2 linked regions of the Homo sapiens genome follow. The protein of the gene in region 1 purifies or fractionates together with the protein of each later gene. This does not show direct contact. Each region holds a gene or a part of one and is shown in the gene's direction. Other genes may lie near its edges.

Region 1 (3,500 bases):
CAATGTTGGAGACGTAAAAGTTCATGATATAAATATTTGTGGAATTAAAGACTCTTTACCAGTTATTAAATAGTATTTATTATACCTTGGGTTTTGGCTCTCCTGGACTAGTACAGGGAGGGCTGGAATCTGCACCCACTCCTCATGCTGAGTGTGCCAGCCACTTGCTGTCTCTGGGCCTTAATGTCTGCATTTGTAAACTGTAGGACTGTTTAGTTCTTTCATGGGTGTGTGAAACTTTTAATTGAGTGATTTCGAGGATGCAAATGAAGAAAGGTTAAATATCACTGTTCATCAACCCAAAATGTTTACTGCTCTGGGGAAGAAATAGGGTAAAGAAGTGTTGTGGGTGATGCAAGAATATGGAGTGTGTGCAGTTTTACGTGGGAGACAAGCAGTGGGAGAACAGTCTCCTTGCTGCCCTGTGCCTGTCATCAATGAGATTCCTCATTGAGTGTGCTTCTGTCACCTGCTTTACCTGTATAGAGAGACCTTTGAGACACAATTCAAATAAAAAGCAGTCTCTTTGTCCTGAGCATTTATTATAAAAATCATCAGTGCACAGGATTTTTTTCTTGTGCTTTGTTTTCCCCCTGCCTTATCTCTGGATTTTCACTGGAGCCATTCTCTTCTTACAGGGACATTCATACCACCACCGGGAAGATCAAGAGAGCTGTTCTGCAGTTCACTCCTGCTAGCTGGACCTATGTTCGATGGTTTGACCCCAAATCTTCTTTTCAGAGAGTAGCTGGAGTGTACCTTTTCATGATCATCTGGCAGGTATTTTTTCAGATGCCCAGAAGTTGGGAGGAAAACAAAAACTAAAATAAAAACTTTTTAGGAATTTAGAGTTAACATTAGTTTACATTGCTTTTCAGCTCCATACTTTACAAGATATAATATTCTGCAGCTGGCATGTAGAATAATTAAGCAAAGTGATGTTGTTATGCCTAAGGTCTTGCCTCATTTTGAAGACAGTTTTAAAATATGGATCTTTGAATTACAAATTAGAAACAGATTAGATTCCGTGAAATAATTTGTGTCTAGCATCCATCATCCAATGAGTTAGGCATTGGATTGCTTTTTAGAATGATCATTTTCAAGACCAAAGGAACAAATGAGAAGGCTTTTCTTACATTCCTAATTCAGTGTTTATTGGTTAAAATTGTTCCTCAGCTGTTACCACTTTGGTTAATCTGTAGGGTGCTAAATGAGTGCTGGGGAATTGGAGCCTTTTGCTGAGTCCTCCAGAGTGTTGTCCTCCGTGGAGAGAAGCTGTATTTCCAAGTGGCCCACTTCACGACGGAAGTGATTCTGACAGCCCAGGGTCTTGGCAAAAGATTATCAAGCATCTGTGTTTCTGAGAGACAGCAATTTTTTCTGATGCTCCTGGCCCCAGGTTGTTTCACAACTTTTGGAAAGTAGCCAAGGGAAACCAGCTTTTGCCTGAAGAGGATCTTTCAGAGTCATCAGAAATTATGTTTTGGACACATAAACACAAAATACTCCCAACATAAGGAAAAAATTAGCAGATGTCACTTTTAGGACAGATGATCTTCCTTGTTCACACAGAGACAATGCCCATCGCAATAAATGAAGTTTATGCATACAGAAGTGTACGTGAATAGTTAAGTAAGTAATCACTGTGGTTTGGAGAGGTCAGTATCTTTAAAAACAGGACTGTAGATGGATTGGGATTAAGCTTTGCCTTATCAGGCCCAATGTCACGGAAAGCAGAAGCTTTCTTTTATTACAAGGAGGAATGATTGGATGTGTCAAGGAGAGTAGTATAGTGCCGTTAGGATGGAACCACCTGGTGGTATGCGATGGAGCACACTGTTCCCATGAGTGTGAGCACTGCGCTGGGATCAGCTTTCCATATGTGATATTAATTAGACTATTTTTTATTTTGTGTCCTTGAAGTCAGTGCTATGGGAAAACAACATGCATTTTGTGGAATTGTAATGAACCTGCCAGTCTATGTACTGTGTTCTCCTAGCACAGTGACCGTTCCATAATCTCCACCCCTTGTTTGCTACCTGGAGCTGGGCTCTAGGCAGAGAGCAGCCACGTCCCAGCCACAAGATATTTTGTGCTACTCATCATGATGAACTGCATGAGGATGCTAACCTCAGGGAAAAGTACTACTGCTCCCAGCTGAAACTTGGACCAACCCTTCATACCTACTTTTAAGGACTGCCTTTGGTAGAGGATCTGCTCTGTCCCAGGCGTGTGCTGCACGAGTCCATCGTCATCTCTCAGATGTGTCTCCAGCTTCTTTTTTTGCTTTTTTTTTGAGATGGAGTTTTACTCTTGTCACCCAAGTTGGAGTGCAATGGCGTGATCTCGGCCCACTGCAACCTGCAACCTCTGCCTTCCAGGTTCAAGCAATTCTCCTGTCTCAGCCTCCTGAGTAGCTGGGATTACAGGCGCCCACCACCATGCCTGTTTGTATTTTTAGTAGAGATGAGATTTCACCATGTTGGCCAGGCTGGTCTCAAACAACTTACCTCAGGCGATCTGCCCGCCTCGGGCTTCCAAAGTGCTGGGGTTACAGGCATGAGCCACCGTGCATGGCCTCAAGCCTCTTTTGATTGTTAAAGAGCTTACTTATCTACATTTGGAATTCTGTTAGACCTGGCCTGATTTCTGTAAGGCAGCATAGGTGTTCTGTGGCACAGGTTTGCTTTCATGACTTCTGTATGCTCAAAGCATTTCTCTCCCGACTATCCCAGTGGATCACATGTGTGAGCTGAGTAACAATCATACAAACCAGGAAACATGACAAATAGCTGATAATCCTGTTCCCCTATGTGCCCATCCACCACCCCTGCCACCTCTCCCTGGGCCTCCAGTTGCTCCCTGCCCATAATGTACTGGCTGTTAACTAGTTTGAATAGCAATCCTTGGAAGACCACATCTATTCTCTGAAAATGCTTTGAACATACCAATTATTTCTAATTGTAGAATGTCTATTTAAGGAATAGAGGATTTTGAATTAGCATGAGGTACCAGGTTGACTAATTTCTCCGTCTTTTTCAGCTGACTGAGTTGAATACCTTCTTCTTGAAGCATATCTTTGTGTTCCAAGCCAGTCATCCATTAAGTTGGGGTAGAATTCTCTTTATTGGTGGCATCACAGCTCCCACAGTGAGGTAATTCTGCACAAGCCTGACTGTCATATGAGAACATTAACTTGCTTTAGATTGTCCTGTTTAGCATAAGGAAAGTCATATAAACTAGCAGATTTTCCATGAAAATACCATCGTAAAGAATTGTACATCCAGAATATGACGAAAATGTTTTGTTCTCAGATGTCAGTAACATTAACCAGACATTTAAAAAGAGAAGCACTTGATGAACACCACACCAATAGTACTATCCATTATTATCAGATTCCTTTACAGTCTTGGACTGCCGATCTTTTTTTCTCCTATAACATCATATTAGAAAAAAATAACAGCATAGTGATGCTGAGTTTTTTAAAAATGAGATTACTG
Region 2 (3,500 bases), on another chromosome or scaffold:
AAGTTTTTTAGCTGAACATTCTAGGTAATCTGTGAATATGTCTTGGTGGAAAAACATGTTTTGCAGCATTGGGCAAGAAAAGGACTGATAGTTCCAGGGATTTGTTCATTTTTCTCTTTGTTTCCTCCCACTATAGATGACACATTTCTTATCCCCAGCTTACTTACAGAATATTTGCAAAACATGGAACACTTGTACTTTCTAAGAAACTCTGAGACCATCACTGCTAGAAAGTTAAGATTTATAAAACTTTTTTGAAACTTTAGAATCTAGAGTATCAAGTATATCATATCTTAGAATTAATAGATATAATTAGCATACTTTCCTGAAATGTGTCATTCTTCCTAGAATTAGATTTTGTGAATATTTTATTTCAGTATGATCTTAATTGTTTTGAATGTTTTCTCCTATTCAAAGAGAAATGGTTTAGAAAGCAAGATATAGAATTTATGGTTCTTAAGGGATGTTTTATAACATATTAAACAATATTAGTGTTTTTTATAAATGTACTTGTTTTTACAAACAGATTCTGAACGGTTGCATAGCTTGTATGAACACATTGACATATGAAGAGAAACAAATATGCTTTTTCTCTCCTGCTTGACTAGGATATAATGACTACATCAAGATGAGCATTAATCCTAAGAAACTTGTAATGGGTGTTCCTTGGTATGGTTATGATTATACCTGCCTGAATCTGTCTGAGGTAGGAACAGTCATTTGTTACATAATTTTTATTATCTATTATATTTTTTAGAGTCTCTCTGTTTTCATTAGAAATATATAAACTTTAGAATCTCTGAAATATAGTTTGAGATAAAAATTATTTATTTTTACTTCTATGAAAGCTTATGATTATCATACATTTTCATTTAATAATGAAATTTATTTTAACCTTTTTTCTGTATAGTCAGGTTTTCTATGGTATATGTTTTATTTCTAAATAATTTATATATTTTTGGTTTGGCTTTTAAGAATTGCATAATTGATAATATATAACATGAGCACTTTTGCATTTCTAGGATCATGTTTGTACCATTGCAAAAGTCCCTTTCCGGGGGGCTCCTTGTAGTGACGCTGCAGGACGTCAGGTGCCCTACAAAACGATCATGAAGCAAATAAATAGTTCTATTTCTGGAAACCTATGGGATAAAGATCAGCGGGCTCCTTATTATAACTATAAAGTAAGACTTTTCGTAAGTTATGAGCATTTATTCTATTAGTTTTTGTAATTATTTTCATAATTAGATGTTTGATATCAAGAATTTCTATCAGTTTTCTTTTAGGGCATAACATGCAGACTGCTATTTACATGAGTAAACTTGTCTTTGAATCTGTAATCAGGAACTTTAGTTCCCTGGCGAGCAATTGGAGTTTTGCTAATGGTGAATCTACTCTGCTTGGGCCACTTGTCATTTAGATGATGCCATAAAAATGTGCATATCACAAACAGGATTTCTGTAACAGTTGACAATTATGTTAGGATGACTGTTGATTTTGAATGGGTTTTGGGCCAAAATAAGTTACTATCTCTGAAAGCCTCCATTTCAAAGTGGCCTACAGATTCTGATGAGACTTACATAGGGAGGAATGAGGCTGAGAACAGAAGAGGTGTCATAATCGACTTTACAATGGAAAAACTATCATTTTCAATTTATTTTATAATTAAATTATAAAGCAATGTCAAAACTTACAAAAATATTACATAAAGGAAACCTGAAGAAATACACTAAGTGATTAGCAATTCTGTCAAGTAGTGTTTAATAGGAATTGCTATACCAAAATGGCAAAGAAAAGTTACAGTTTTCATAATTTACCTTTAGCATTATAAAGGCTCTTCCACAGCTCAAAAATCTAAGTACAAATCCTCTTTGAATTTATTTCAGATTATGTTACTTTAAAAGGAGTACTAAAATGATATAAGTGAAGTTCAGCAAGGATTTATATGCTTAATTAATGGTCTGGTACCCATTTATAAAAAAATGACTGCAAACACACTACATGTCATAAATTATAATTGATATACATGTGTATGCCTCCACAGAGAGCTTTAGTGTAGAGCTTTCTAAACTTTGGAACTGAAAGTATATACCTATTAGTGAAACTAGAGTGTATTGTAATCTTATCTTTCCTAAACAGTGTTTATATTAGTCTGTCCTGGGAACTGTTAATATTACACACACAGATGCACATGTGTGCAAAATATACACACGTGTGCCATGGCCAAATATATTTAGAAAAACACTATATACTGTACGCCCCTCTTGGAGATTTGTAACAACAATTATATTAATGGGTTTGAGAAGTGCTGTAATACATAAGGTAGTTTAATTGTTTGACATATAATCTTGTTTCACAGCATTCTTAGAAACATGCAGTTCTTAGAAACTGTTTCATGGATATGGTTTGTTAAAAGTTATGGTAACCAATTACATATACAGGCATACCTTAGAGATATTGCAGAGTCAGTTCTAGACCACCACAATAAAGTAAATATAGCAATAAAGCAAGTGACATGAATTTTTTGTTTCCCTGTGCATATAAAAGTTATGTTTATACTATACTGTAGTCTGTTAAGTGTGTAATAGCATTATGTCTAAAAAAAGTACATACCTTAATTTAAAAATACTTTATTGCTAAAAAAATGATAACGATCATCTGAGCCTTTATCAAGTTATAACCTGCTTGCTGGAAGAGTGTCTTGCCTTGTCATTGATGGCTGCTGACTGATCAGGGTGGTGGTTGCTGAAGGTTGGGGTGGCTATGGCAATTTCTTAAAATAAGACAACAGTGAAGTTTGCCACGTCAATTGACTCTTCCTTTCACGAAAGATTTCTGTGTAAAACGTGATGCTATTTGATTGCATTTTACCCACAGTAGAACTTCTTTCAAAATTGGAGTCAACCCCATCAAACTCTGCTGCTGCTTTATTAATAAGTTTATAGAATATTCTAAATCCTTTGCTGTTATTTGAACAATGTTCACAGCATTTTACCAGGAATAGATTCCATTCTCAAGAAACTACTTTCTTTGCGTATTCATAAGAAGTAGCTCCTCATCTATTCAAATTTTATCACGAGATTGTAGCAATTGAGTCACATATTTAGGATTCACCTCCAATTCTAATTCTCTTGCTGTTTCCACTACCTCTGCAGTTACTTCCTTCACTGAAGTCTTGAACCCCTCAATGTCATCCATGAGGGTTGTAACCCACTTCTTCCAAACTCCTGTTAATGTTGATATTTTGACCTCCTCCCATGCATGAATCATGAATGTTCTTAATGGCATCTAGAATGGTGAATCCTTTCCAAAAAGCTTTCAGTTTACTTTGGCCAGATCCATGAAAGGAGTTACTGTCTTTGGCTGCTACAGCCTTACAAAATCTATTTCTTAATTAATAAGAGTTAAAAGTTGAAATTACTCCTTGTTCCATGGGCTGCAGAATGGATGTTGTGTTAGCAGGCATGAAAATAACATTCATCTTGTGTTCTCCATCAGAG

What was found.
Region 2: the proteins of PTDSS1 (region 1) and CTBS purify together in Homo sapiens (affinity purification with mass spectrometry; one large-scale study listed by BioGRID and IntAct). This does not show direct contact.

What each region holds. Positions count from the first base shown.
Region 1 is NC_000008.11:96,303,402-96,306,901, forward strand, and holds part of PTDSS1 (phosphatidylserine synthase 1), read left to right. Parts: intron 1-638; coding exon 639-780; intron 781-3,042; coding exon 3,043-3,155; intron 3,156-3,500. UniProt on the Homo sapiens protein: Catalyzes a base-exchange reaction in which the polar head group of phosphatidylethanolamine (PE) or phosphatidylcholine (PC) is replaced by L-serine. Catalyzes mainly the conversion of phosphatidylcholine.
Region 2 is NC_000001.11:84,560,941-84,564,440, reverse strand, and holds part of CTBS (di-N-acetylchitobiase precursor), read left to right. Parts: intron 1-608; coding exon 609-706; intron 707-1,022; coding exon 1,023-1,184; intron 1,185-3,500. UniProt on the Homo sapiens protein: Involved in the degradation of asparagine-linked glycoproteins. Hydrolyze of N-acetyl-beta-D-glucosamine (1-4)N-acetylglucosamine chitobiose core from the reducing end of the bond, it requires prior cleavage by glycosylasparaginase.